Homo sapiens: one gene and its partners. The protein of the gene in region 1 interacts with the protein of each later gene in a pairwise test. Each region holds a gene or a part of one and is shown in the gene's direction. Other genes may lie near its edges.

The links. Proteins that work in one complex are often made in the same cells at the same time.
Region 2: the proteins of RBM10 (region 1) and U2AF1 interact in a two-hybrid assay, tested with the Homo sapiens proteins (one large-scale study listed by BioGRID).
Region 3: the proteins of RBM10 (region 1) and PRCC interact in a two-hybrid assay, tested with the Homo sapiens proteins (one large-scale study listed by BioGRID and IntAct).
Region 4: the proteins of RBM10 (region 1) and PRC1 interact in a two-hybrid assay, tested with the Homo sapiens proteins (one large-scale study listed by BioGRID).

Annotation. Positions count from the first base shown.
Region 1 is NC_000023.11:47,150,531-47,155,977, forward strand, and holds part of RBM10 (RNA-binding protein 10), read left to right. Parts: intron 1-5,447. UniProt on the Homo sapiens protein: Binds to ssRNA containing the consensus sequence 5'-AGGUAA-3'. May be involved in post-transcriptional processing, most probably in mRNA splicing. Binds to RNA homopolymers, with a preference for poly(G) and poly(U) and little for poly(A).
Region 2 is NC_000021.9:43,101,071-43,104,570, reverse strand, and holds part of U2AF1 (splicing factor U2AF 35 kDa subunit), read left to right. Parts: intron 1-168; coding exon 169-256; intron 257-3,138; coding exon of another isoform or gene 3,139-3,205; intron 3,206-3,500. UniProt on the Homo sapiens protein: Plays a critical role in both constitutive and enhancer-dependent splicing by mediating protein-protein interactions and protein-RNA interactions required for accurate 3'-splice site selection. Recruits U2 snRNP to the branch point.
Region 3 is NC_000001.11:156,770,535-156,774,034, forward strand, and holds part of PRCC (proline-rich protein PRCC), read left to right. Parts: intron 1-3,500. UniProt on the Homo sapiens protein: May regulate cell cycle progression through interaction with MAD2L2.
Region 4 is NC_000015.10:90,988,036-90,991,535, reverse strand, and holds part of PRC1 (protein regulator of cytokinesis 1), read left to right. Parts: intron 1-2,911; exon of another isoform or gene 2,912-3,500. UniProt on the Homo sapiens protein: Key regulator of cytokinesis that cross-links antiparrallel microtubules at an average distance of 35 nM. Essential for controlling the spatiotemporal formation of the midzone and successful cytokinesis.

The DNA of each region.
Region 1 (5,447 bases):
GCATACGGTAGGCTCCGGTTTTATTTTCTTCCATATAGTAGGCAGTTTTTCCAGTACCACCTCCTAAATAGTCCATTCTTTCTTTATTGATCTGTGGTACCTCATCTGATTTCAGGTTCCCTCATGTACATGGATCCGTCTTGAGTGATGTGATTTGTTCCATTGGTCTATTTGCACATTCTTGTGCCAGCACCTTACTGTTTTTATTATTATGGCTTTATAGAATGTCTTAGTAGCTCCTTTGCACTTATTTTTCAAAGCTGGTTTAATCATTTATGGGGCTTTATTATATATCAAAAGTTATCAAAGTCCCTCAAAAACAACAAGAATTTTGATCGATGTTACACTGAACTTCTCTATTAATTTGGGGAAAATTATCTTTGTAAGTAGTCATTTCATCTAAGACCTTTGTAGAGAATATTTTGAAATTTATGTAAAGAGCATAAAAAGCTTTCATTTTCATAAATGGAAATACAGGTCTTATGTATTCTTTGTTAAAGTAATCCCTAGGTACTTCAGTCACTTTCATTATCTTTTTTTTTTTTTCTCGAGACTTGGTCTTGCTCTGTCACCCAGGCTGGAGTGCAGTGGCGACCTCCACAGGCTCAAGTGATCTTCCTACCTCAGCCTTCCAAGTAGCTAGGACTACAGGCACGCACCACCACGCCCAGCTAATTTTTTGTAGAGACGGAGTTTCACCATGTTGTCCAGGCTGATCTTGAACTCCTGAGCTCCAGCAATCCACCCACCTTGGCCTCCCAAAGTTCTGGGATTACAGGCCATTATCTTATTTTTTAAAAAATATTTTTCATGCTGGTATTTGCTGGGGTAGAGGAAAGCTGTTGATTTCTGTAAGTTACCCCTGCTGTATGCCCTTATTATTTCTAATACTTCATTGTTGATTCTGATGTTCTTTCTAAGTAGTTGGTCATATTGTATGCAAATCTATCCTGTCACTTATTTATTTTTCTTCATTTATAGTATTGTCCAGGACTTTTAGTACCATATTAAATAGTATAAGTGATACTGGGTACACAAATTAAGATTTACTTTGGCTGGTTGTGGCAGAAAGTCCAAAGGATAATGGCTTAGACAAGATAGTTTACTTTTCTTTCCCATAAAGGCAGTCTGCAGAAGAGCAATTAATCTAGGGCTGACAGGCAGCCCCTTCTGTGTAGCCATCCTCAGCACATGGCAGTTGAGACAGTAGGAAGAAGGGAGAGGAATAAAAGGGAATGTGTCTAAAGTTTCTCCATTAAGTATGGTGCATGCAGTAAGTTTTTAGAATGTATCCTTTAATAAATCAAGAAAATTATCTAATCTTCGTTTGCTAAGATTGACCATAAATAAGTATTGAACTTCAAAATCCTGTGCTTTTTTTCTCCCTTTGTCCATTAATTTCATAAATTGTGGCCTGGCATGGTGGATCACAGCACCTTGGGAGGCCAAGGTGGTTGGATCGCTTGAGGCCAGGAGTTCAAGACCAGCCTGGCCAACATGGTGAAACCTCATTTCTACTAAAAATAAAAAAATCAGCCAGGCGTGGTGAAGCATGTCTGTAATCCCAGCTACTGGGGAGACTGAGACATGAGAATCGCTTGAACCTGGGAGGTGGAGGTTGCAATAAGCTGAGATCGTGCCACTGCACTCCATCCTGGGCAACAGAGTGAGACTCCATATCAAAAAAATAAATAAAAATTTTGTAAATTGCATTAAATGATATCCTTGGCATTCTTGAGCTATACCCCACTTGATCATGGTATGTATGTATATGTTTATGACTTCTTACTTTGAAAATATCTCAAATTTACAGAAAGGTTGCAAGAAAAAGTATAATGAATTCCCATATATCCTCTACTCAGAATTACTTGTTTTAAGTATTTTGCCACATTTGCTCTATCACTCTATATCTTTTTTTTTTTTTTTTTTTTTTTTTGAGACGGAATCACTCTGTCACCCAGGCTGGAGTGCAATGGCGTGATCTTGGCTCACTGCAACCTCCGCCTCCTGTGTTCAAGCAATTCTCCTGCCTCAGCCTTCCAAGTAGCTGGGATTACACGCGCCTGCCAGTACGCCTGGCTAATTTTTGTATTTTTATTAGAAACGAGGTTTCACCATGTTGGTCAGGTTGGTCTCAAACTCCTGACCTCAGGTGATCCACCTGCCTCAGCTTCCCAAAGTGCTGGAATTACAGGCGTGAGCTACCGCGCCTGGCCCACCCTATAGCTCTATATCTTTACATAGACACACACACACACACACACACACACACACACACACACACACGTTTTTTTTAATCGTTTGAGTTGGTGGCAGCCATGACTTTTCTTTTTGAGTCAGAGTTTCACTCTTGTTGCCCAGGCTGGAGTGCAATGGTGCAATCTCGGCCCACTGCAACCTCTTCCTCCTGCATTCAAGCGATTCTCCTGCCTCAGTCTCCCAAGTAGCTGGGATTACAGGCATGCGTCACCACACCCAGCTAATTTTGTATTTTTAGTAGAGACAGGATTTTTCCATGTTGATCAGGCTGGTTTCAAACTCCCGACCTCAGGTGATCCGCCCATCTCGGCCTCCCAAAGTGCTGGGATTACAGGCATGAGCCACCACATCCAGCCTGACATGACCTTTTAAGTCTGGCAGCATGTACGTCTTAAGAACAAAGGTGTTCTCTTCCATAACCACAATATACTTATCAATATCAGGAAATTAAACAATTATATAGTACTTTTATTCTATATAAAGCCCATATTCAGATGTTATCACTCTTCTCAATAATGTCCTTTATAATGGTTTTCCCCAATCCAGGATCCAGTCCAAGATCATGTATTGCATTGAGCTCCTTGTCTCCTTTAATCTGAAACAGTTATTCTATCTTTGTCTTTTATGACCTTGTCATTTTTTTTTTTCCTGAACCTATGGATTATATTGAAAGCATGTTTTAAAGTTAGTTGTTTTATAGAATGTTTCTCAGTTTGGATTTTTCTGATGCTTACTCATGAGTTTTTGGCAGAAATGTTATTTAAGTGATTTATGTATATTTTTAAAACCTTGTTAGATTTTATTAGCCATTGTATCATCTAGGATATCTACACCTGTATTTATCAGTGAGGTAGTCCAATATTTTTATTTTCAGTATTTATCTGGCATTGGAATCAAGGTAGCCTCATTACATGAATTGGGCAGCCTTTGTTATTCTCTCTTTATTGGAGAAACTTGTATAAGAATTATCTGTACCTCGAAAAACTTGGTAGGACTCACCTTTAAAAGCATCTGGAGGCTGGGCGCAGTGGGCTGAGGCAGTTGGATCACTTGAACCCAGGAATTCGAGACGATCCTGGGCAACATGGCGAAACTCTGTCTCTACAAAAAATACAAAAATTAGCTGGGCGTGGTGGCAGGTGCCTATAGTTCTAACTACTCAGGAGGCTGAGGCAGGAGGATTACCTGAGTCTGGGAGGTTGAGACTGTGGTAAGCCATGATCATGCCACTGCACTCCAGCCTCAGTGACAGAGTGACACCCTGTCTCAAAAAATAATAAAATAAAAGCATCTGGAGCTGGTTTTTGATTACCATTTCATCTCTTCTGCCAATTTTAGCATTTTATATTTTCTAGAAATATACTCATTTTGTGAAGATCCTCATATATGATGATTCAGTCCAGCATCCTAGAAATGCTTTATAAAAGGGATATGCCTTTGGAAGGTGTTTGTTCAGAGTGCTTTGGTGGCCAATTAAAAATATTCCTTTCTATCCAAATATGTTCCCTTCCTGAGTTTAGATAGCAAGAGTTCAATACCTGAATTTATTTGGTTTGGATATTGGATGTCAAGAGAGTTCAGGATAATTTCATCTGAAAATTTATAAATTTATTCATATCTGTTCAGTTCTTGATTTTTTTTCCTTTTTTTTTTGTTTGTTTGTTTGTTTGTTTTTGTTTGTGGAGATAGTCTCACTCTGTCTTCCAGGCTGGAGTTCAGTGGTGCGATCTTGGCTCACCGCAACCTCTGCTTTCCAGGCTCAGGGGATTCTTGTGCCTCAGCTTCCTGAGTAGCAAGGATTACAGGCCCGTGCCACCACACCCGGCTAATTTTTGTATTTTAGTAGAGACGGGGTTTCACCATGTTTGCCAGACTGGTCTCGAACTCCGTACCTCAGGTGATCCACTCGCTTCAGCCTCCGAAAGTGCTGGGATTACAGGTGTGAGCCACCATGATGGCCCAGTTCTTGAATTTTGATGACTACAGTTCAAATTGATTGTATCAAGAACCTTATAACTACTCATACCACTGACAGTGATTTCTTCTCTAGGCATTTACGGTAGGGAAACAATTTGGGGCCAGGTGTGGTGGCTCACGCCTGTAATCCCAGCACTTTGGGAGGCCGAGGCGGGTGAATCACGAGGTCAGGAGTTTGGGACCAGCCTGGCCAACATGATGAAACCCCATCTCTACTAAAAATACAAAAAATTAGCTGGGTGTGGTGGCAGGCACCTGTAATCCCAGCTACTCGGGAGGCTGAGGAAGGACAATCGCTTGAACCCAGGAGGTGGAAGTTGCAGTGAGCCAAGATCACGCCACTGCACTCCAGCCCGGAGGACAGTGCGAGACTCCCTCTCAAAAAAAAAAAAAAAAAAAAAAGAGTTTGGGTTCCAAGCTGAGTTCGTGGGGACAGGGACTTTATTTTGTTCACAGCAGTATCCCCATTACCTAGAACAGTACTTATCGTATAGCCAATGTTAGGTTAATATTTGTTGAATGAATGCATGAACAAATAATTGTTTAAAAAAATGGAAGTCAACCAAAATGTTTGAAAACATGTTTAATGGATATTTGCCCCATTTGTTACTTATCTTTATGGTGTTTTCCATAGTTTAGTGTGAAATTTCAAGCATGTAGCAAAGTTTAAAGAATTTTACAATGGGCCTGGTGCGGTGGCTCATGCCTGTAATCCCAGCACTTTGGGAGGCTGAGGTGGGCAGATCACGAGGTCAGGAGATCAAGACCATCCTGGCTAACACAGTGAAACCCCATCTCTACTAAAAATACAAAAAAATTAGCCGGCTGTGGTGGCGGGCGCCTGTAGTCCCAGCTACTTGGGAGGCTGAGGCAGGAGAATGTCATGAACCCGGGTGGCGGAGCTTGCAGTGAGCCGAGATCGCCACTGCACTCCAGCCTGGGCAACAGAGCGAGACTCCATCTCAAAAAAAAAAAAAAAAAAAGAATTTTACAATGAACACCATATATACCCATCCACTAGATTCTTTTTTTTTCTTCTTTCTTTCTTTTTTTTTTTTTTGAGATGGAGTTTTGTTCTTGTTGCCTAGGCTGGAGTGCAATGACACAATCTCAGCTCACCGCAACCTCTGCCTCCTGGGTTCAAGTGATTCTCCTGCCTCAGCCTCCCGAGTAGCTAGGATTACAGGCACGCGCCACCACACCTGGCTAAT
Region 2 (3,500 bases), on another chromosome or scaffold:
GTCCTAAAATACAGCAAGGAAGAGGAGGTGCTTAATACCACGGAAAAAAGTCTGTGTCATGTTTCTGTGAGGTTAAAAGTAATTTGATAGTGTATGTCATGCTGCTGACATATTCCATGTGTTTGATATCTTCCCAGCAAAATAATCAGCTCTCATTTTCCCTTACAGAGTCAACTGTTCATTTTATTTCAAAATTGGAGCATGTCGTCATGGAGACAGGTGCTCTCGGTTGCACAATAAACCGACGTTTAGCCAGGTTTGTTTGCCTTTTTTTCATGTAAATTATAAAAACTTCATGTTCTTTTCAAAGACAGTTAATTTCTACATATTAAGCAAGTCATTTTTTCTCTCGTAGTTGTATTTTCCATTTGTGTTCATAAGTGTGTTCTTTTATTTAAATAATAGTGAGGCAGGTGATCGACTTCCAGTGGAAGGTCTGAGACCACCACTCCTTGTTTTTATCATTAGAGAAACTTTAAAAATCAGTTTTTGATGTTTGTGTGTTGGCTGTGCCTGATATTTGCTGCCCTGCCATCTTCCCTACCCCCTCTGATAGACATGGGTCCAGAGGGGGTGGCCGTGCCAGCCTTGGGTTAGCCTCCTCCAGGCACCAGTGGACACGGAGTGGGCTTTCTGCTCTTTGCTGTCTCCAGACAGTAGAGGTGATGGAGCCACCTTCCAAGTTAGCGTGATTGTCACCAGGCCCATCATGCTGCTCGAGCTTCTCTGGCTGCGTCCTCACTTTCACATCCCTAGCTGAGGAAACAGCGAGTCGCATCACGTCATGGAAACATGAAAAATTAAGCTGAAAGGTAGAAAATGGGCCGTAAATTGCTCTTAGCGGGTCTGTTTGGTTAATTGAGGAGTGCCTGTTATCTTGGGCTTAGATCCGCTCTGAGTTCAGTTCAATCAAAAGTTGTGAGTTTTGATAGTTTTATTTTTGGTTAGTTGAAGAAAAGGCAAAGGTTGGTACACTATAAAGGATCACTTACGGATTAAAGGGAGAAGGCACCTCTAATCGGAGCAGAAAACTTGTGCCCACGTTGATGAGAACATTTGAAATTTGAAAATCGATGCCCAAGTCTTTCCAGATGGAGGGCTGGGGAACTCCTTCCAACCCACCCTTGAAGTCTAAATGTGCAGCCTCTGAGCTGTTGAGTAGCTATTATGCGTGGTCCCTGGGAGCTGCCAGGCTCTGCCTTTGAGCTCACATCTGTCTGTATACGTTTTCCTGTAAGCATTTAAGAAAATCTACCACTTTGTGTAAGTGAGCTGGGAGAAGGAAACATGGGTTTTTTCCGGTTGAAGCCCATGGACGACCCCACAGCACACAGTGTTTTTAGAAGGGAAGAGGATGATGGCTTTTCCCTCCATTATGCTAATTACCAAGTGGTTAGTATAATAGCAGTCTGTCTTTTGATAGCTCTGAACATGAGTTTCTTTTTACAAATTTCAAAATCTTGGAGAACTAGCTTTACATTTTCTGTGTATTGCAATTGTTTTTTCTTTAATGTTTTGATTTATGAACCGAATCTCCCCTAACTAAACCAGTGGCCATGGATTGTGGTATAACCAAGCATCTTAAGTGACCACCCAGTTCTTTGATTTTGGGGGGTGTCCCAAGTGTTGGGCTGAGAGAAATCAACTGTTCCCTATTCTAAAAGTTTTCTTTAATCTGGCTGGAGGCACTTTCTTTATGTTTTTCTGGATCATAGATTACCTGAGAATGTGAAATGTGAAGTTAATTTAGGCATTCCAGGTCAGTGCTGGGGAGAGCCCATTGGAGCTCGATGGGGTCAGTAGTATGTGTCAGCTTAAGCATCCTAGTTTGATGCGTGGGTTTGTTTTGGTTGGTTTTAGGCAATCCTAGCCACCCTTGGCTTTCCCATTAGACTGCATTGCCTCTTTACGTTAAGCTTCCTTCATTAAATAGCCACTGCCAGAATACCTGAGTGAGACCAACTGAATTTTACTGTTGAATAATTGGGCTCAGTTTAGCTTTTCATCAGGGTTGTCATGGTACGGTCATTTCAGTTCAAAGCTGAGTCAAGTCAGCTTTGGGAAGCCTCCCAGGCCTGAGTTCAGTTGACTCAGGGCTGTACTTGGCGGCTTATGGAAGAAACGGGGCCCTGATGCAGGTCTGAGTGGTTCAGTGTGGACAGTTTGTCAGACCTCCCTCTTAGGTGGGGTGGGCTTCCCAGCTGCACACCTTTGACTGAGGAACTCTTCATACAACCACTCCCCTTTAAACAGAGCTAGAAATGGAGCTGGCTGGTTTTATAAAACCACCACTTACAAAACTGCTTCACGTGGATATTGTTGAGACTAAACATTTATTTTTCTAAATCATGCGAGTGATTGCTTTAGCTTGTAAATCTCTAGCATAATTCAGGGTGGGTTTCTTTATAAGCTGCTTACAGTGATATGGACGTTAAGATTCATGTAATATATTAGCCTACTAACTTAAACATGGTTTGTTTTTTCAGACAACTTGATTTTAAGAAGAACGGTACAGTGTAAGGTTTCAAGTCTGCCTGATCCAGTTTAAAGCACAAGGGCTAAAAGGATTTTTTTTCCTTAAAAGAAGGATCGGAAAAGAGCAAATGTTTTAAGCTATTGTATTATGTAAACAGAGATCCCACCAAGAAAGTGTAAATCAGAGCCGGGTGTCCATGACAGTTGACAGACCTGTTTGGTGTGCCTGTTTTGCTAGGAGACCAGAGAACTTGATGTACTGCAGACAGCTGAGTTACGCATTTGGTTTTGAAAAATTATCTTGTGTGAGGAATATGATTATAACGTGAATTTTTCCACATCTTGGTGTCTGCTAGCTTGAAGTACAAGAAAATATTAGTATTCTACTATTTATCTTGCATTAAAACACTTTAACATTGAAAACGTGGGACTAATCAAAACAATACAGTTTCTTCTTGGTTGCTGGCTGACTTGACCCAAGTCACTGCTCAAACTCTGTTTTCATAATATGATGGTTTTGGTGTACTCTTCAGAAGACAAATGTCTGACTTGCGGGAAAAAAACAAACGTTTAGCCATTTGCAAACAAATTGTCTCTTTGCAATTGTCTAATATATGCACAGCAGCCAGTAGAATTCCCCTTTTTATTTTTTTTTCCCCGCAGACCATCTTGATTCAAAACATCTATCGTAATCCCCAAAACAGTGCACAGACGGCTGACGGCTCACACTGTAAGTCCCACAGTTGGAGAAATTTTTTTAAAACAATGGTGTTAAAGAGCCCACTCTTAATTGAGACAAATAATGTTGGCTTCTGAGCTGCTGACATAGAGCTGTTGCAAACAGGACAAGGTGCTGGAACTCCTTGGCGCACACAGCAAGAACTTGATACTTGGCCACGTTCAGGAGGCTTATCCCTTCTAGGGAGGGTCACTGGCCCGGCCACCTCCATTGATTGACATTTGTCATGAGAGCAGGTCCGTCCATGTGAAACGGATTTCAACATTTTGAGCCATTCATTGGTCTT
Region 3 (3,500 bases), on another chromosome or scaffold:
CAGCTAATTTTGTATTTTTGGTAGAGACTGGGGTTTCTCCATGTTGGTCAGGCAGGTCTTCAACTCCTGACCTCAGGTGATCTGACCACCTTGGCCTCCCAAAGTGCCGGGATTACAGGTGTGAGCCACCACGCCAGCCAACCATTGTCTTTAAAAGAGCTGTGCCCCCTCCAGATGTAAGCCCCTCCAGTTCTGAGCTCTATGTCTTACACTTAGGCTCTTAGTACGCATTTGAAAGAATGAATTAGGTTTCCTTAAGTAAATAATTTCCCTTTAGAGTTTGGTGCTGAAGTAGAAGTAATTAGAAGTAATTAACTCTCAACCATTTCGTTCAATTGATATTGAGCTCTTTCTTTGTACCTGGAGCTAAGAATGTACAGTAGTGAACATGATAGCCCCAGCCCGAAAGGAGCTTATGATCTACTGGAGAAAACACAGAAGGAAATAGATTTTAGGACAAGGCAGAGAAGGACCGTGATAAGCTGGTGCCATTGGAGTATACCTAGTGGGCATTAGTCCAGTCTTGGGAGGTTGGGGAGCCCTCTGGGGGGAGATGTCTAAGCAGAGATAAGGCTGAAGAAAGGGTAGTATGGGAGCAGCACAGCAGAGGAAACAATGTATAAAAGCTTGGAGGACAGAGAGGGACAGTGCTTTCAGGGAACCTCAGGTGAGTAAAGCACAGTGGCTGGAGCATTTGAGAGGGTGGGGAGTGCTGAGAGAATGGGGCTAGAGAGAGAGAGGCTCAGGCCAGATAATGGGCCTTGGATGCCATGCTAGGGTCTTTCTACCTCATTTTGGGGTTGTGAAGACCCCTTAAAGGCAAGAATTCTCTGATCACAGAGTGGTGAGAACCTTGGAGGGAGCAAGACTGGCAGAATGTGAGAGGCTGGTGGCCTGGATGATGAACTAGGGGATGGAGAGAACTGGAGCATCGAGGTATATTTAGGAGGGGGAAGTGATAAGACTGGAGGATTGATTAGATGTTACACTAAGGAGAGGATTCAAGATTGACCCCCACTGCATTTGCCTCAGGCAGCTGGGGGGTGGTGTTGCCATTTATTGAGGGAATACGGGAGGCAGAGCAGATTGGGGGTTAGTTAGATTTCATTTGTTGCAAGTGTTAGAAGCCAACTCAAGCTAGTTTAAATGTTTTTTTTTTTTCTTCTTTTTTAAATAAATAGAGACGTTGTCTCGCTACATTGCCCAGGCTGGTCTTGAACTCTTGAGCTCAAGCAGCCCTCCTGCCTTGGCCTCTCAAAGTACTGGGATTACAGATGTGAGCCACCACGCCTAGCCTTAAATGGTAATGCATCATAAATATACTGTGGTACCTCAGAAGGGACCTGCATCAGGAACCTGAGATCTGTTGGGGATCTCTACACAGCTGTTCTTTGCACATCTGATTCATTTTTTAAAAAATTTGTTTTATTTTTAAATTTTAATATATTTATTTATTTATTTGTTTTGAGACCAGATTATGGGACTGGTCAATTTTTGTATTTTTAGTAGAGATGGGGTTTCACCATGTTGCCAAGGCTGGTCTCAAACTCCTGGGCTCAACTGATCTGCCTGCCTCAGCCTCCCAAAGTGCTGGGATTACAGGCGTGAGCCACTGCTTCTGGCCTTGATTCATTATTTCTCTGCGGATTGGCTTCTTAACCTTTGTTGTAGGTGAAGGATGGCCACCCACACCTTGGTTTTGATTTCTTTCCTTTTAGAGATCAGTCCAGATTGAACTATGATGGTAGTCTCAATTCTGGTTTTCCTGGAGTGAGAATTTGGTTGATTTGATTTGGGTCATATTATCCAATCATCTGCAGTCAGCGTAGTACCAAATTCTCCCTCCAGGCGTATTCCAAAATTAAATTCAGTCAGCTTTTGATTTTTGTGGGGAATTAGGAATGATCCATAGAATGGATAATCGTCCTTTCTTTTTCCCTTCTTGCTGTGACCCAAGCTACACTGGTTGATTTCATAGGCTCAGGGGAGGCAGACTTCTCCTAGCATATGAGAAACCAAAATCAGAAGAATAAGTCTGCTGGAAGAGTTTTCTATCATTTATAAAGTGTATTCCAAAGCACACAGAAATTTCAGGGTTATCTGGATTAGTATTTACCACCACTTTCAGATTGTTTACCAAGATAGTAGAAAATTTGAAGCTCTGAGACAGATTTCACTAATTTTTGTCACTTCTAGTAACCAAATAAGAATTGCCTGCAGTGGATTTAGCTAAGTTTTAGCCCTAGCTAAAGGGAAGGGAGAGTGTGCTTATCTGTGTGGGGCACCTGCTTAATGTCTGAACTGTGCTGGGCACTTACTTTAGTTTATAAAGAAGAAAACAGGAGTTTAGAGAACAGAAGTGATTTGCCTGAAAACACAGTTTGTGAGTAGCTGCAATTGTATTTGAACCTGGATGAGATTTGTTGTGTTTATCGGGGTGTCTATGGAAAACATGGAAGAGCCTGGGGCAGCCAGAAAGCAGAAAGCAATACAAATGAGGAGTGCAAAAATGGGAGTGAAAACGGTATCCTAGCAGCAGGTACTTGAGACTTAAGAGTGAAAAAGGGTTGATGAATGTAGCAAATGGGGATAACAGTAGTAATGATTAGGGTTTGGAGCCCCGGGGTGTGGTGCTTAGGGGGCGTCTGTTCTTGGGTTCTTATTTCCTCCTTGGCTTTTAGTCCTGGAAGCTAGTGATTGCTTTTTGGAGAGGGAGTGTCTCAGAGCCAGAGCCTGGGAAGATAAGAGAGAGGCCGCCGTGGGGAATGAGGCTCTGATAGATTAGCAGATCCCACTGGACCTAGCTTAATGGAAAATGTCTGTTTCCGTTCTTGCTCAGCAGTCTCGGGGTATGTGTGTCTTGTCACTCTTGGCAGCTGGAACAGAGAGGACAGTGGTGGCCATTGAGGCTCAGGTTCTCGTGAGGCCAAGAAGAAATACAATACTTTCTTATTAACAGACTCAACAGTTTGTGCCTCAAAACCAATGTGTGCCTATTGTGGCCCGGGACACTCTCAGCCCTGGATGCTCCGGTGTTTCTAGCATTGTCCTTCTTTCTTGATCTAATGGCACAGACCCACTCAGATGGCCATTTGCTGGTCTTTAGCACTCTCTAGAAGTTGACTCCACAACCTCCATTTAATATACTCTTGAGGAAAACAGTTTGGCAGTTCCTCAAAAGGTTAAACAAACAGAATGATGATCCACCAATTTCACTTCTAGGTGAAAAGAATCAAAAGTGGAGATTCAAACAGATACTTGTACACCAGTGTTCATAGTAGCAATACTCCCAGTAGCCAAAGGTGGCAACAACCCAAGTGTTCATCCACAAATGAATAGGTAAAATGTGGTATGTGCACACGTTAGGATATTATTCAACCTGAAAAAGGAATGAAATTCCGATACGTGCTACAACATGGATAGACCTTGAAGACATTATGCTAAGTAAAGTAAGCCAGTCACAAAAGGACAAATATTTTATAGTTGCGCTTATATGAGGT
Region 4 (3,500 bases), on another chromosome or scaffold:
GTCTCTAACTAGAATAATAATAATGGGTGTTTGGTAATTCCAAACACCCATTTCCAACAGGCCAAATAAAATACGTTATATATTAGTAAAATTTTTATTTCTTTTTTTTTTTGGAGACAGTCTTGCTCTGTTGCCCAGGCTGGAGTGCAATGGCATGATCTCAGCTCACTGCAACCTCCGCCTCCTGGGTTCACCGGGTTCAAGTGATTCTCCTGCCTCAGCCTCCTGAGTATCTGGGATTACAGGCACCCACTACCACGCCCAGCTAATTTTTGTATTTCTAGTAGAGATGGGGTTTCACCATGTTGGCCAGGCTGGTCTCGAGCTCCTGATCTCAGGTGATCCGCCCGCCTTGGCCTCCCAAAGTGCTGGGATTGCACACGAGCCACCGCGCCCGGCCATAGTAAAAATCTGTAAGTTTTTCAATTAAGTCACAAATCAAAAACATTTCAGATTATGGGCCGGGCACAGTGGCTCACGCCTGTAATCCCAGCACTTTGGGAGGCCGAGGCGGTCGGATCACGAGGTCAGGAGTTTGAGACCAGCCTGACCAACATGGTGAAACCCCGTCTCTACTAAAAATACAAAAATTAGCCGGGCGTGGTGCCGTGTGCCTGTAGTCCCAGCTACTCAGGAGGCTGAGGCAGGAGAATCGCTTGATCCCAGAAGGCAGAGGTTGCAGTGAGCTGAGATCACACCATTGCACTCCGGCCTGGGTGCCAGACTGAGACTCTGTCTCAAAAAAAGAAAAAAAAAAGAAACCAAAAATGTTTTAGATTATGTGCCAAGATGTTTTTAATAACAGCTTTGAGGTATAATCCACATACCATACAATGTACTTAAATTGTATATTATAATTCAGTGATTTTTAGAATATTCAGAGTTGTGCAATCATCACTGCAATCAATTTTAGAACATTTTTATCACCCCTTTAAAATCCCATTAGCAGTCAATCCCCTTTCACCCCATGGTCCAAATTCTCCCCAGCCGCAACTACAAATCTACTTTTCGGCTAGGCAAGGTGGCGCACACCTATAATTCCAGCACTTTGGGAGCCCAAGGTGGGAGGACTACTTGAGCCCAGGAGTTCAAGAACAGCTTGGGCAACATAGAGAGACTCTACCTCTTAAAAAAAAAAAAAAAATTATTTATTTATTTATTTATTTATTTTATTTTTTATTTTATTTTATTTTATTTTTTGAGATGGAGTCTCACTCTGTCACCCAGGCTGGAGTGCAGTGACGTGATCTCAGGTCACTGCAACCTCCACCTCCCGGATTCAAGCAATTCTCCTGCCTCAGCCTCCCGAGTAGCTGAGATTACAGGTGCCCACCACCACACCCAGCTAATTTTTGTATTTTTAGTAGAGACGGGGTTTCACCATATTGGCCAGGCTGGTCTCAAACTCCTGACCTCGTGATCCGCCGGTCTTGGCACCCAAAGTGCTGGGATTACAGGAGTGATCCACCGCACCCGGCCTAAAAAAAAATTTTATTGTTTAAGTTAGCTGGGTGTGGTGGCTCACATCTGTAGTCCCAGCTACTCCGGAGGCTCAGGTGGGAGGATCACCTGAGCCTAGGAAGTTGGGGCTGCAGTGAGCCATGATCATGTTACTGCACTCCAGCCTAGGTGAAAGAGGGAGACCCTGTCTCAAAAAACCATACAAACCCCAAATCTACTTTTTACCTATTCTGGATATTTCATAAAAACGGAACCGTAGCTCTGGTCTTTTGTGACTTGCTTCTTTGACTTAACATAATGTTTTCAAGGTTTATTGCCAAATAATATTCCATTGTATGCCTATATACTACATTTTATTTACCCATTCATAAGTTGATGGCCATTTGTATTTTTTTTTTCACTTTTTGGCTATTATAAGTAATGCTGCTATAAACAGTTGTGTAGTTTTTGTATAAATGTGTTTTCATTTCTTTTGGGCAAATACCCAGTAATAAAATTGCTGAGTTGTATGAACTCTGTTAAACTGAGGGGCCGGGTGCAGTGGCTCATGTCTGTTATCCCAACACTTTGGGAGGCCGAGGTGGGAGGATTGCTTGGGCCCAGGAGTTCAAGACCAGCCTGAGCAACATGGCAAACCTTAAAAAAAAAAAAAAAAAAAAAAATTAGCCAAGCACGATGGCACGTCTATGGTCCCAGCTACTTGGGAGACTAAGGTAGGAGAATTGCTTGAGCCCAGGGCGTTGAGGCTGCGTTGAGCTATGATCACACCACTGCACTCCAGCCCAGGTGACAGTGAGGCCCTGTCTCAAAAAACAAAAAATCAATTGAGGAACTACCAGACTATTTTCCAAAGAGGCTGTACCGTCTTGCATGCCCACAAGCAGTGTCTGAGGGTTCTAGTTCCTCTAGATTCTCACCAATACTTTTTGCTATATATTTTTTTTTATTATACCATCCTGTTGGCTATGAAGTGGTTTTGATTTGCATTTCCCTAATGACTAATATTGAGCATCTTTTCATGTGCTTATTGGCCATTTTTATATCTTCTTTGGAGAAATGTCTATTCAGATTCTTTGCCCATTGTGCTAGATTTTTTTACTCAGAAAAACGATCACTTTACCTTCTAGATGTGTTACAGAGATAGGCAGCCCTGCTTGTAAACCTTCGTCAGGATCCAGAGTGCATAATACCTCTATTAGGTTAGGTAGGTTAGGAGCATAGGACCCTTTGGGAGGAATTCAGGGCCATTCATTTTATATCTATTGAACAACTACTGTGAGTTAGGGTGTGGTAAAATGAAGATGAATAAGATGTGGTGGTCCTTGCCCTTGAGTTTATGGTCTACTAGGGGGCTTGGGGGGAATGGTGAGTGACAAGTCCACAGCTCTCCAGAGGAGGTGGTGGCATATAGACGGAACTGAATGTACAAAGCGCGGTGGCATCAGAAAATGAGAGTTGCATGTGGTTTATTGAGGGGCATTGTTCAGGAAATGCCCGGGAAGTTCAGCTGGCCAGAGACCTGGGGAGTGTCAAGTGGGAGAGATTAGCAGACAGACTCGGAGAGAGGTTTTAGAAGGCCTTTCTACAGAAGGTGGTTGAACTATTTCCTGAGGGCAGTGGAGCCTTTGAAGGGGAGTAGTTAAGCGGGGATCTGATGGGATTTATTATGAACAACTAGCTGTTATGTGGAGATTGGCTGGGCAGGGGTAGGTCTGTCAGACTGAGGAGACTGGGATACTTAAGTAATGACCTTCAGAGCAGTGCCCCTGGCTGGCCTGTCTGGAAGCCAGGGTTTTGCATCCAGATCGAATATTGGCCACAGATTGGATCTTAAAAGTTATTTTTAATAAAATGGTAATATTAGGATTTTAACTTGTGCATTCTTTTGTCTTCAAAATGAAGTGCAAAAGGAGTGTTTGCCTGGGGAAGCTCTTTAGTTGGACTTTAGTTGAGATTATGTTAAATAAATGCCTTACTTACTGTTAACATTTCTCTTTTTTTCCTTTAAGTTCTGTTGGACTTGAACTGTTAACATTTCT